3 linked regions of the Homo sapiens genome follow. The protein of the gene in region 2 purifies or fractionates together with the protein of the main gene of each other region. This does not show direct contact. Each region holds a gene or a part of one and is shown on either strand. Other genes may lie near its edges. The genes, in order: ATP1A2, ZNRF1 and BHMT.

Evidence for each region.
Region 1: the proteins of ZNRF1 (region 2) and ATP1A2 purify together in Homo sapiens (affinity purification with western blotting; one study listed by BioGRID). This does not show direct contact.
Region 3: the proteins of ZNRF1 (region 2) and BHMT purify together in Homo sapiens (affinity purification with mass spectrometry, with the first as the bait; one large-scale study listed by BioGRID). This does not show direct contact.

Annotation. Positions count from the first base shown.
Region 1 is NC_000001.11:160,122,244-160,125,892, forward strand, and holds part of ATP1A2 (sodium/potassium-transporting ATPase subunit alpha-2 precursor), read left to right. Parts: intron 1-969; coding exon 970-1,173; intron 1,174-1,699; coding exon 1,700-1,813; intron 1,814-2,052; coding exon 2,053-2,187; intron 2,188-2,892; coding exon 2,893-3,010; intron 3,011-3,649. UniProt on the Homo sapiens protein: This is the catalytic component of the active enzyme, which catalyzes the hydrolysis of ATP coupled with the exchange of sodium and potassium ions across the plasma membrane.
Region 2 is NC_000016.10:75,092,968-75,096,616, forward strand, and holds part of ZNRF1 (E3 ubiquitin-protein ligase ZNRF1), read left to right. Parts: intron 1-604; coding exon 605-700; intron 701-3,649. UniProt on the Homo sapiens protein: E3 ubiquitin-protein ligase that plays a role in different processes including cell differentiation, receptor recycling or regulation of inflammation. Mediates the ubiquitination of AKT1 and GLUL, thereby playing a role in neuron cells differentiation.
Region 3 is NC_000005.10:79,125,235-79,128,883, forward strand, and holds part of BHMT (betaine--homocysteine S-methyltransferase 1), read left to right. Parts: intron 1-811; coding exon 812-994; intron 995-2,520; coding exon 2,521-2,749; intron 2,750-3,649.

The sequences.
Region 1 (3,649 bases), on a different chromosome or scaffold from region 2:
TTCCTTAGTAACACTTTTCTATCTGGCACTAATATGTATTTGTTTATTGTGTGTCACCTCTCCAGATCATAAGCTCCTCAAGGGCAGGGACTTTGTTGGTCTTGTCCATCTCTGCATCCGCAGAGTGACAATTGTGCCTGGCACTGGATATACATTTATTAAATGAATGAATGAATGAAAAAAAAAAAAAAAGAAACGGTCCCTGCTTTAAAGGAGCTCAAAGTCTAGTAGCAGAAAAAATGCAATCCTAGGATTCCAATGCAATATGGTGAGTGCAGCTCTAGAATCAAGTATAGAACACCATGGGGAACCAGAAAGAAGCATCTGAACCAGCCTGGGGCTGAGGGAATAGGGCCAGGCAAGGCTTTCTGTGGAAAGTGACAGGTGATTGCCAAAGTTGTGTGACACTGACGGTCAATAATGTAGGACTTGAGCAGGGTGTGGAGGTGCCCACCTGTAGTCTCAGCTACTTGGGAGGCTGAGGTGGAAGGATTGCTTTAGCCCAGGGTTCAAGGATGCAGTGAGCTATAATTGCACCACTGCGCTCCAGCCTGGGCAACATAGCAAGAATCCATCTCTTAAAAAAAAATCTAGGACTCTCCTAGAATCCTTGATAAAATAATCTGAAGGAAGAGAGATGGGGAAAAAACAGTTGAGGTGTCTTTCCAGGGAGCTTATCCAGACTGCCTCCAGGGGAGATGTTATGGCCCTAACCATAGGTGTTGTCTCAATCCAATATAATTAGGGGTCAAGCCCAGTCAAACCCTTCTCAGCCCTCAAGCCCTCCAAGTTGCATCACAAATGCCACCTCCTCCATGTGGTCTCTCCTGATGGTCCCCCACCCCTTCCAACCAGGTGGGACTTTCCTTCTGGGCATTCTTCCCATGCCCGGGAGCTGAAGGGATGGGCATGGTGACTGGCTGGGTTGGCTCCGGATGCGTGCCCCTACGCCTCTCCTTGCTCCCTCAGGGCCTCACCAACCAGCGGGCTCAGGACGTTCTGGCTCGAGATGGGCCCAACGCCCTCACACCACCTCCCACAACCCCTGAGTGGGTCAAGTTCTGCCGTCAGCTTTTCGGGGGGTTCTCCATCCTGCTGTGGATTGGGGCTATCCTCTGCTTCCTGGCCTACGGCATCCAGGCTGCCATGGAGGATGAACCATCCAACGACAATGTGAGCCCACACGCCCGACCCGGGAACAGCCCGTGACTGTCCTCCAACCCTGAACCCCCAACACAGTGGGGGGTGGGCAGGGAACAAGGCCCTCACATAACAGTCCTACAGATGCCCCTGCATCTTAGGCTGGAAAGGGGAGAGGCTTCTATATATATCTGTAAAGTACTCCTCCGCCAACAGTGCATACACATTCACATACTCATTAATTAATGAAACAATCTCTCCCTGTTCCTCCCCGCTTAAGTGAGCCTGTCTGTGTGCCTGGGTCTTCATCCCCTAGCAAAGTCCTAACCCTGGGAACTTCCTAAGACTTTCCCTCCCATTTCTAGTCTTAACAGGCTTGAGGTTGGCAGATCAAGGGGGAGGTTAGTGAGAAGGGCTTTCCCCTACCATCATCACTCTCAGTCACAGACAAAGGTCTGGGCTGTCATCTTGGATGGCACTGCCTGCTCATCCCAAGTGGCAGCTGCCCCTTTAGGGTTGGGGGGAAGGTCAGGTCCCTGAAACTCTTTCTCCTTACCAGCTATATCTGGGTGTGGTGCTGGCAGCTGTGGTCATTGTCACTGGCTGCTTCTCCTACTACCAGGAGGCCAAGAGCTCCAAGATCATGGATTCCTTCAAGAACATGGTACCTCAGGTAAGATGGCAGGGCTGGGCTCTGGGCTAGGCTGTAAGGTTTTGGCAAGAGTCCAGCTCATCTTTTGTCAGCTCCCAGGCTCTAAGATAGAGATGGACAGAAAAGATCCTCCAGCTTTCCATGCCAGCACCTAATTGTTTATGGGGCTTCTCCTTCTGCTTGACGGTGTGGGAGACCAGCAGGAGAAGAAGGCAGGGGCAGAGACAAGCATTTCATGAGCTGCCTGTGGCTCCCCACAGCAAGCCCTTGTGATCCGGGAGGGAGAGAAGATGCAGATCAACGCAGAGGAAGTGGTGGTGGGAGACCTGGTGGAGGTGAAGGGTGGAGACCGCGTCCCTGCTGACCTCCGGATCATCTCTTCTCATGGCTGTAAGGTGAGGAGGTCATACCAGAGCAAGCAGTTGAGTCTAAGGAGAAGGCTGTGTGCAGAGCTGAGAGGGGCCCAGTGAGGTTTAAAGGTGGAGAGACCCAGGTCCAAATGTCAACACCATGCCTATGCCCCTGCTAAACCTTCTCTCAGTGTGGGGTGCTTGTGCAGTGCCTCCTTGCATCTGTGTGTTATGAATGCTCTATGCCCCAGGTATTTCTTTGTTGTCCACTTTTTAGCAATCATGTATTGAATACCAATTATGTGTCAGCTGCTTTATATATGTTCGATGTGCTATCTGATGTAATTCTGAAAGAGTGGTGTAATCATGCAGGGCTGCTGAATGTGGCCACACACGTTGCATCCTGAATGACCCCAGGAGGTGCATTTTCATAACTACAGTGTTAGTGTCTCCCCCTGTGGTTGTGCAAGGCAGAGATTCTGTTTACATTCACCATTTTACAGTTGAGTACATGGAGGCTCTCTTGGTTAAGCAAGTAACCCGAGGTCACATAAGAAGTCAGGAGGAGTCAGAATTCCAAACCAGGGCAGGGGCAATAGATGAGTAATGCCATAAATATGTGATGAGGGCAAGTGTGACTTTGTTCCTCGTGTCATGAAGATTGAGTGTGGTTGGAGGTGGTTCAGGAGACAGCTGTGTGCATACAAGTGGCTCTGCCAGTCTGATGACTATGCACTCCTTCCTCCTCAGGTGGATAACTCATCCTTAACAGGAGAGTCGGAGCCCCAGACCCGCTCCCCCGAGTTCACCCATGAGAACCCCCTGGAGACCCGCAATATCTGTTTCTTCTCCACCAACTGTGTTGAAGGTGAGAAGCCAGGCTGCCCCCTGTAGGAAAGAGTCTGAATCCTGAATCCATAGTCAGGATGAAGGGCTCTGGTAGTACTTACCTGGCAAAAGCTCTGCCATTGGTGGGGCAATTGAGGGGTCAGGGGGCCCTGAATATTATGGAAACACCCTCCACAGAGCAGGGTATTGACTGAGGGCAGCCTGACTCCATGGGAAATGTATCTCCCTTCCCCAGGGAGATCTCTGTTCTGTCCACCCCAAGACTGAGTGGATTTCAAAGCTTTCAGGTATTGGGTTAAGAACCCCTTACGCATGCGCACACACAGATGCACATACGCTCAGAACCAACCTGGATTCTTAGGAGTCTTTGGATTTGATTGATGCTTCTATTCCTTGTGGTTCTGGGCCTCGCTGCCCCCTTCGATAACCTTTGCTTTGGCCAGGGCCCCAGGGTCTGGGAGGGCCAAGAAGGCATTCTGGCCAGGTGAACACTTGGGGCCTACTTCAGGCTGCTTCTAACCTTTGTTACATCAAAAGACATGTTTCACCATGCACAGACTACCCAGTTTGCCCCATCCCTGTTCTGGGTTCTAGAGATAAACAAAGGTCAATAAGAACTCCCAGAGCTGCCATCACTTAATGGCAGGGGTCCAAGCAC
Region 2 (3,649 bases):
GAGAAAGGGTCTAAAGAAGATAAAACTCAAGTCAGGTGTCAGTGACCTTGGTTAAACCTTAACGAGGCACATAAGGCAGGGTGAGCCCTAGTGAAAGCTGGCAGTCAGTCAAAGGCTGCAATAAAAGGCAAATGCCACCGGGCGCGGTGGCTCATGCCTGTAATCTCAGAACTTTGGGAGGCCGAGGCGGGTGAATCACCTGATGTCAGGAGTTCAAGACTAGCCTGGCCACCATAGTGAAACCCCCTCTCTACTAAAAATACAAAAATTAGCCAGGCGTCATGGCAGACACCTGTAATCCCAGCTACTTGGAAGGCTGAGGCAGGAGAATCGCTTGAACCCGGGATGCAGAGGTTGCAGTGAACTGAGATCGTGCCACTGCACTCCAGCCTGGGCGACAGAGTGAGACTTCGTCTCAAAAAAAAAAAAAAAAAAGGCAGATGCTCAAATGAGTCCTTGAAGGAGGACAGGTCCAGGGTCTGTTCTGATGGTCATCCTCCACATTGACCCTGAGCCCACATGGCTGTCATTCGAGAGTGTCCACATGTACTGTGGATGTACTGGATCTGGAGAAAACATTTCATCCCATTCTCCTCTCTTTCAGGTTTCAAGTGCCCCATTTGCTCCAAGTCTGTGGCTTCTGACGAGATGGAAATGCACTTTATAATGTGTTTGAGCAAACCTCGCCTCTCCTACAACGGTAAGGGCTTGGCCTGCCTCACCAGCCTCCAGAGCATCCGTCGGGGGAGCCGGCCAGTCCTTGTGGGAGCCTCCAGTCGAGGGTGGTTCTGGGCAGTATTTTCACCCTGCCCTCTGGCAGGTGTGCCTCAGTGGTGGTGAGGAAGTGGACTGTTCTGGGAGCCTTGCTGCTCAGGTCAGAGAGGAAGAGGAGTGGGACAAGGAAGGAAGGCCCAGGGGTCAGGTCCGAGGTCTGGGAAGGCTCTCGGGCTGCTCAGTTAGGCCCCTGCCTCTCTGCAACTCAGTTCTGAGGACTTTGGCTGGGAGATGCAGCCTTTCCTTCACCCTTGACTGTGGAAGGCCCCAAGACAGCCAGGTGTCCTCCACGGCTTAGCAGAGGGGCCCAGAGCAAGCACCCGCCCTCCTTGGGGAGGTGGGGGCTGTGTGCTGGTGGCATGCATAGAGTGCTGGGAAGCTGGTCGTCTCCTTGTCACGTTCGAACTCGGACGAACACCTGATTTAGTCCTATGAGTCCACACCAGAGAGCTTGACGGGGGACTATGTGTGACATAGAGACGCTCTGGGGATTGAAAATGCGGATAGGACACCTTGCTGCTCCACCCTGGCCATGTTGCCTCCTACCTTGGAGGCTGCCTCAGAGCCGAACAGTGAATACCGCAGAGGGTAGGACCCTGAGGGCAGGGGATTTCAAAACACCCAAGCTAACCTAACAGGACGCCTCTGGGAAACAAAATGACTGTCAACATCTGCCTAGCATGCTGTGCATAAGGCTTTGGAGTCCAGGTGATGGGAGTTCAAATCTCCCTCTACCACTCTGTGTCTACAATCTTATACAAGTTGCTCAGCTTAGCGGAGCCTCAGTTTTCTGCTCTGTAAAATGTGGATAGCAATACTTGGTTCATAGGATTGTCAGAACTGGGTAAGAGATGGCACATAAAGGCCTTTGGTACAGAGCCTGGCACATGGTCAGTGCTTGGGAAGTTACAGCTGCCATGAAAGATGTGAGACCTTCATAGGTTTCTTTTTGCAGTTTTCCAGAGCCCACAGACTTCTCCTCAGTGCTGCTCAGCCCACGCCACTGCTGACCCTCGATTTTCCATGCTTAGTGTTTAGTCTGGTCTCCAAACCATGTTCATCAGAAAACGGCATCTTCCACTAGACCAGGCAGTGGATCTGAGTGCACTCCAACCCTGGTACTGGCCCACCTTCCCAGATTCAAGTCATAGTAGTGGTTGGAAAAAGAGTTCTGGGATTTCTGAGAGCATCTGAGGACTGGATCACGCAACCAGCCCAGCGAGAATGTTTCCTAGGGAGACTCTTCTCTGCCCTGCAGCCTCCTCACTCCCAGAGGGCTCTTTCCCCTACAAAGCATGAGCCTAGGAGGGATCATGGTCTCAGAGCATTTCCTGGGAAGTAACTGACTAATGGCGTCCACTCAGGTCTCCTGAAAACTTCTCTCTTAATTACTTGTTCAGCCAAAAGACTCTGGATGCAGGTGGGCATATTACCCACGTGGCTCAGCTCCATGCATTTGTTAGGCCATGCTCAGGTGGGAGGACCCGCACGGCCCTCCCCTGGGCATCATAGCTGTGGTCTGGGAAGCCCCTTTCCTCCCCAGGGGACAACGCCTCCTTTCTCCTGGGCTGACTGCTGCCAGTTCTCTAAGTCTGTTGTCACATGTGCTGCAGGCTTCGCGTCAGTCCTGTCGCATGCATGCTGTCAGGACGCTCAGGCTCAGCTTTGTCCCTGTTCGCCGTCTCCGCTTGGGACCAGGGAGGGAGAGGAGCCTTCCCTGCGTCTCACAGCCCTCCCTAGCCATGGCCTCAAAAACCCTATTCACTTCTTTCCCACATGTGTGGAGACCTCATGAAGTCCTCCGTTTGTCCTGTGGGTTGCTAGGGCGTTCTCTGTAGACACTGCGTTTGTTGTAGGAAGAATACAAAGAAGCCTCAGAGGGGCTCAGCCTGAGAAAACCTGGCTCTCAGGAAGAACTTTGCAAGAGCAGCCGTGGAGGACAGAGTGCTCTTGGGCCCCCATGGCCCAAATGCAGAGTTACCCCCACTGCCCTGTGGAGAACCGGGAAGGTGAGGCTGTCCAGCTCCTCTGCCAGAGAACTGCCTGGGACGCCACCATGTGTCCCCCTGTCCCCCTCTGTATCAGCACTTGAGTGCCTGGCGCTGTTGGTTTACCCCCCTACACCCCACCACCGGCAGCCTCACCCAAGACTACAGAAACCACACCGGGAGCCGGGCCCCCCTTAGAGGAAGGGGAGATTGGCCAGCCAGCCTGAGGCATGACCACTGCTCCTCTGGTTCTGGTTCTAGTTTTTCCCTTGTCATGGAATTGAGGGGCAGGCCACCTCCTCAAGGGTGCATGTGTTTCTGTATGTGTGCACGTGTGTGTGTGTGTGTGTGTGTGTGTGTGTGTGTGTGTGTAAACTAGAGGCTTTACACCTAAGGCTCTCTTTTGCAAAAGCCAGTCCTTTACCACTGGAGGCAAAGAGAGGCCAGTTGTCTCCAGTCCTTCCAGTGGACTTTGTCTCAACGTGGTGAAGTGCTTTGTTCAGAAACAATGGTCCGGCCCTCTGTGGACCCTGTTCATGTGGTATGGACTCCTCATGTTCAGTCTTTGTCTTTTCTGAAGACCCTAAACCTTCCAGGTAAGAGGAGAGCATTTGCTTCCGGGGGTGTATGTGGAGTGGGCATCCCCAGGCACGCCCAGGGCCTGCTCCAGCTCAGAGAGAGCACAGACCGTGGGCCAAAGCTCAGGAGCTCCAATGTATTCCCCATGATTTGTCATCATCCCAACCTCACCTGCTGCATGTTACCTTTTCTAATTTAAAAAAAGACTTAAGAGTCAGAGGTGTGAGTTCTTGGAATCTTTCTGGAAAGGGGGCGAGGCGGGGCTTTCTTAGTGAAGAGTTTTCTTATGAAGATTCACTAGAACTCCT
Region 3 (3,649 bases), on a different chromosome or scaffold from region 2:
ATCACAAGGTCAGGAGATGGAGACCATCCTGGCCAACATGGTGAAACCCTGTCTCCACTAAAAACACAAAAATTAGCCTGTCGTGGTGGTGTGCGCCTATAGTCCCAGCTACTCAGGAGGCTGAGGCAGGAGAATCACTTGAACCCAGGAAGCAGAGGCTGTGGTGAGCTGAGATCGTGCCACTGCACTCCAGCCTGGGCAACAGAGCAAGAGTCTGTGTCTCAGAAAAAAAAAAAAAAAAAAAGAGATGGACAGCCAAATGTGCACAAATTACACTTCAATTATACCAGACTCTTCAAAGCACTTTCACAGAAAGCACTTCCTGCCTGCTAGTAATCATTCTCACTCAAAGGTAAGAGGTTTGTGGGGAATGAGGACCTAATGCTATGCTTCCAGTTCATCATTCCAATTAAAAGCTTCCTGCTGGGTGTGGTGGCTCATGCCTGTAATCCCAGCAGTCTGGGAAGCTGTTGGATCACTTGAGCTCAGGAGTTCGAGACCAGCCTGGGCAACATGGCGAAACCCCATATCTATAAAAAAACAAACAAACAAACAAAAATTAGCCAGACGTGGTGGCACACACTTGTAGTCACAGCAACTTGGGAGGCTGAGGTGGGAGGATTGCTTGATCACTTGAGGTGGAGACTGCAGTGAGCTGAGATCACGCTACTGCACTCCAGCCTGGGCAACAGAGTGAGATTGTGTCTCAAAAAATGAAAAAAGAACTTCCTGATTCCTGATGAAGAGAGGAGAGCTGGCCCTGCTGGTTTCTGGTGCATCCCTAAGTCTATCATGTTCTTCCCACTCACAGGAGCATCCATCATTGGTGTGAACTGCCACTTTGACCCCACCATTAGTTTAAAAACAGTGAAGCTCATGAAGGAGGGCTTGGAGGCTGCCCGACTGAAAGCTCACCTGATGAGCCAGCCCTTGGCTTACCACACTCCTGACTGCAACAAGCAGGGATTCATCGATCTCCCAGAATTCCCATTTGGTAAGACCAACATTTGATGAATCATCTCAATATCTTCATTTGATATGCATATAAACTCAAGTAAATCTATACCCAGAGATCTTTTGTCATAGTGAAGAGATGGCTTGGTGTCTCCTCATGTCTTGTCCCTGGTTTCTGTCCCTGCAGCCAAAAGCCCCTTCGTATTAGAGAAGAGCAGAAGGAAAGGATGGTCCCAGCTAGCAAAAAAGATCTCTGAATTTAAATATAAAATCTAAGGTGAATCAGCATCTAAACAGACAACTAGTGAGTCATACTTTGGGGTTGGTGAGGATGCCCTTCATGGGAGAATCAACAGATATTTAGTTCTAGTTCCAGCTCTGTTGCTAAGTCCTGTCACCTTAGGAAAATCTTTAAATTCCTCTAGCTCTCAAATTCTTTATTGGGAAAATAAGATCAGACCAGTTATCTCTAAGGTCCTTTTCTCCAATTTTTAATATGGCTCAGCTACTCCAGAGTTTTGGGATTGCAGGCAAGATACCATCATCGAGTGACTGTATAACAAGTTTTAATGAAGAGACCAAGCAGATGAAGTGAGGGGATACTTGCAGTCCAGGCAGAAGGAAAAACTTTCCCAGCATGATTGGGAAGAGCGGGTGGGTTGATCTCACAAATTAAGCCAGAGTGGTCAGCAGGGGCAGAGCATGCCCAGCCTCCTATTTCCTTCTAAGGTCTTTACACCCTATCCTATATTTTATAGGGACCCTTAGACAAGTAAGATATTATAAAATACAATCACTCTGGAGGAGCCACAGAGGAAGAAAGGCAAGGCATTTGTGTTACTTACTGCTGTATAACACATTAAATTAATGCAAAATGTAGTGGCTTGAAAAACCACTTCTTATCTCACAGTTTCTCCAGGTCAAGAATTCAGGGATAGCATAACTAGGTGGTTTTGGTTCAGGGTCTCCTAAGAGGTTGGAGTCCGGATATTTGCCAGGGCTATTATCACCTGAAGGCCTGTTGGGAGCTGGGGGATCTACTTCCTAGCTCACTTAATTGGTTTTTGGGAGTTAGTGTCAGTTTCTTGCTGTCTGTTGACTGGGGGCCTCAGTTCCTCAGCTCATGGGCCTTTTCACTGTGATGCTAGAAAACATGCTTGAAACATGTGATGCTTGCAACATGGCAGCTGGCTTTCCCCAGGGTGAGTGCTCCAAGAAAGTGCAAGGCAGAAACCATGATGTTTTGTATAGCCTAGACTCTGAAGTCACATGCCAGTTCTGCCATATTCTATGGATCTCACAGACCAGCCCTGTTATAATGCAAGAGGGGACTGCACAAGAAGAAAAACATCAAAGGGCAGGGGTCATTTGGAACCTCCTGAAGGCTGGATACCACAGCATGTAAAAGTGAACATACAACACAAAGTAGCAAAGTTTTTTCTTAAATGTAAAAATTGAATATTGAAAACAATTCATTTATTGAAAATTACATACTTGTAGCTACTTATCTTGAATTTTTATGAAAAGAATGTATAATGCCTAATGGCATAATGCCACTTATTACAGGACTGGAACCCAGAGTTGCCACCAGATGGGATATTCAAAAATACGCCAGAGAGGCCTACAACCTGGGGGTCAGGTACATTGGCGGGTGCTGTGGATTTGAGCCCTACCACATCAGGGCAATTGCAGAGGAGCTGGCCCCAGAAAGGGGCTTTTTGCCACCAGCTTCAGAAAAACATGGCAGCTGGGGAAGTGGTTTGGACATGCACACCAAACCCTGGGTTAGAGCAAGGTAAGCATCTTTTTACTAACCCAAACTAATTTAGATTATGAATATGTTCAAGTGAGGCCATTTAGAAGACTGCAGCAAATTTGTTGTGTGATGATGAAGAATCAGTCATCCCCAAATTCTCTCCCAGAGATGTTTACAAAGCATCCTTATTAGGTGATTTCTGGAGATTGTTTTAAGAATATAGAACGTATTTGACCTGATTTTGGATTTTGAAAAGAAAAAGAAAAATTTTTTTAAAAATTGTTTTTAAATATAGGCTGGGTGCGGTGGCTCGCGCCTGTAATCCCAGCACTTTGGGAGGCCAAGGTAGGAGGATTACTTGATCTCGGGAGTTTGAGACCAGCATGGGCAAGATGGCAAAACTCCATCTCTACTAAAAATACAAAAAAAAAAAAAATTAGCTGGGCATAGTGGTGCATGCCTGTAATCACAGCTACTTGGGAGGCTGAGGCACAAGAATTGCTTGAACCCGGGAGGCAGAGGTTGCAGTGAGCCAAGATCACGCCACTGCACTCCAGTTTGGGCAACAGAGTGAGACCCTGTTTTAAAAAAAAAAAAAAAAAAGAATATAGCATGTAAATAAACGTAAGTGGCAATGAAATGTGATTTTGTGCTCTAGTAAAGCACCATTAGTGTGGTGCACAATACTCTTAAATTGCATTGATTTTTAAGAGTTAAGGACCACTTAAGTATAGCTAATACTGATTGTTCTATATCAAGCATGATTTTCAGAGCTGGGAATACGGTGGCAAATAAGACAGGCAAGGTCTTTGCCCTCAGAGTTTACATTCCAATGGGGAAGATGAATAATACACTAGTAAAAAAAAATGTATGTCAGGCACTGGGAAGGGCAGTAGGAATATAGAAATGAGAAGCCGTGGATTAGAGACTCACAGTCTA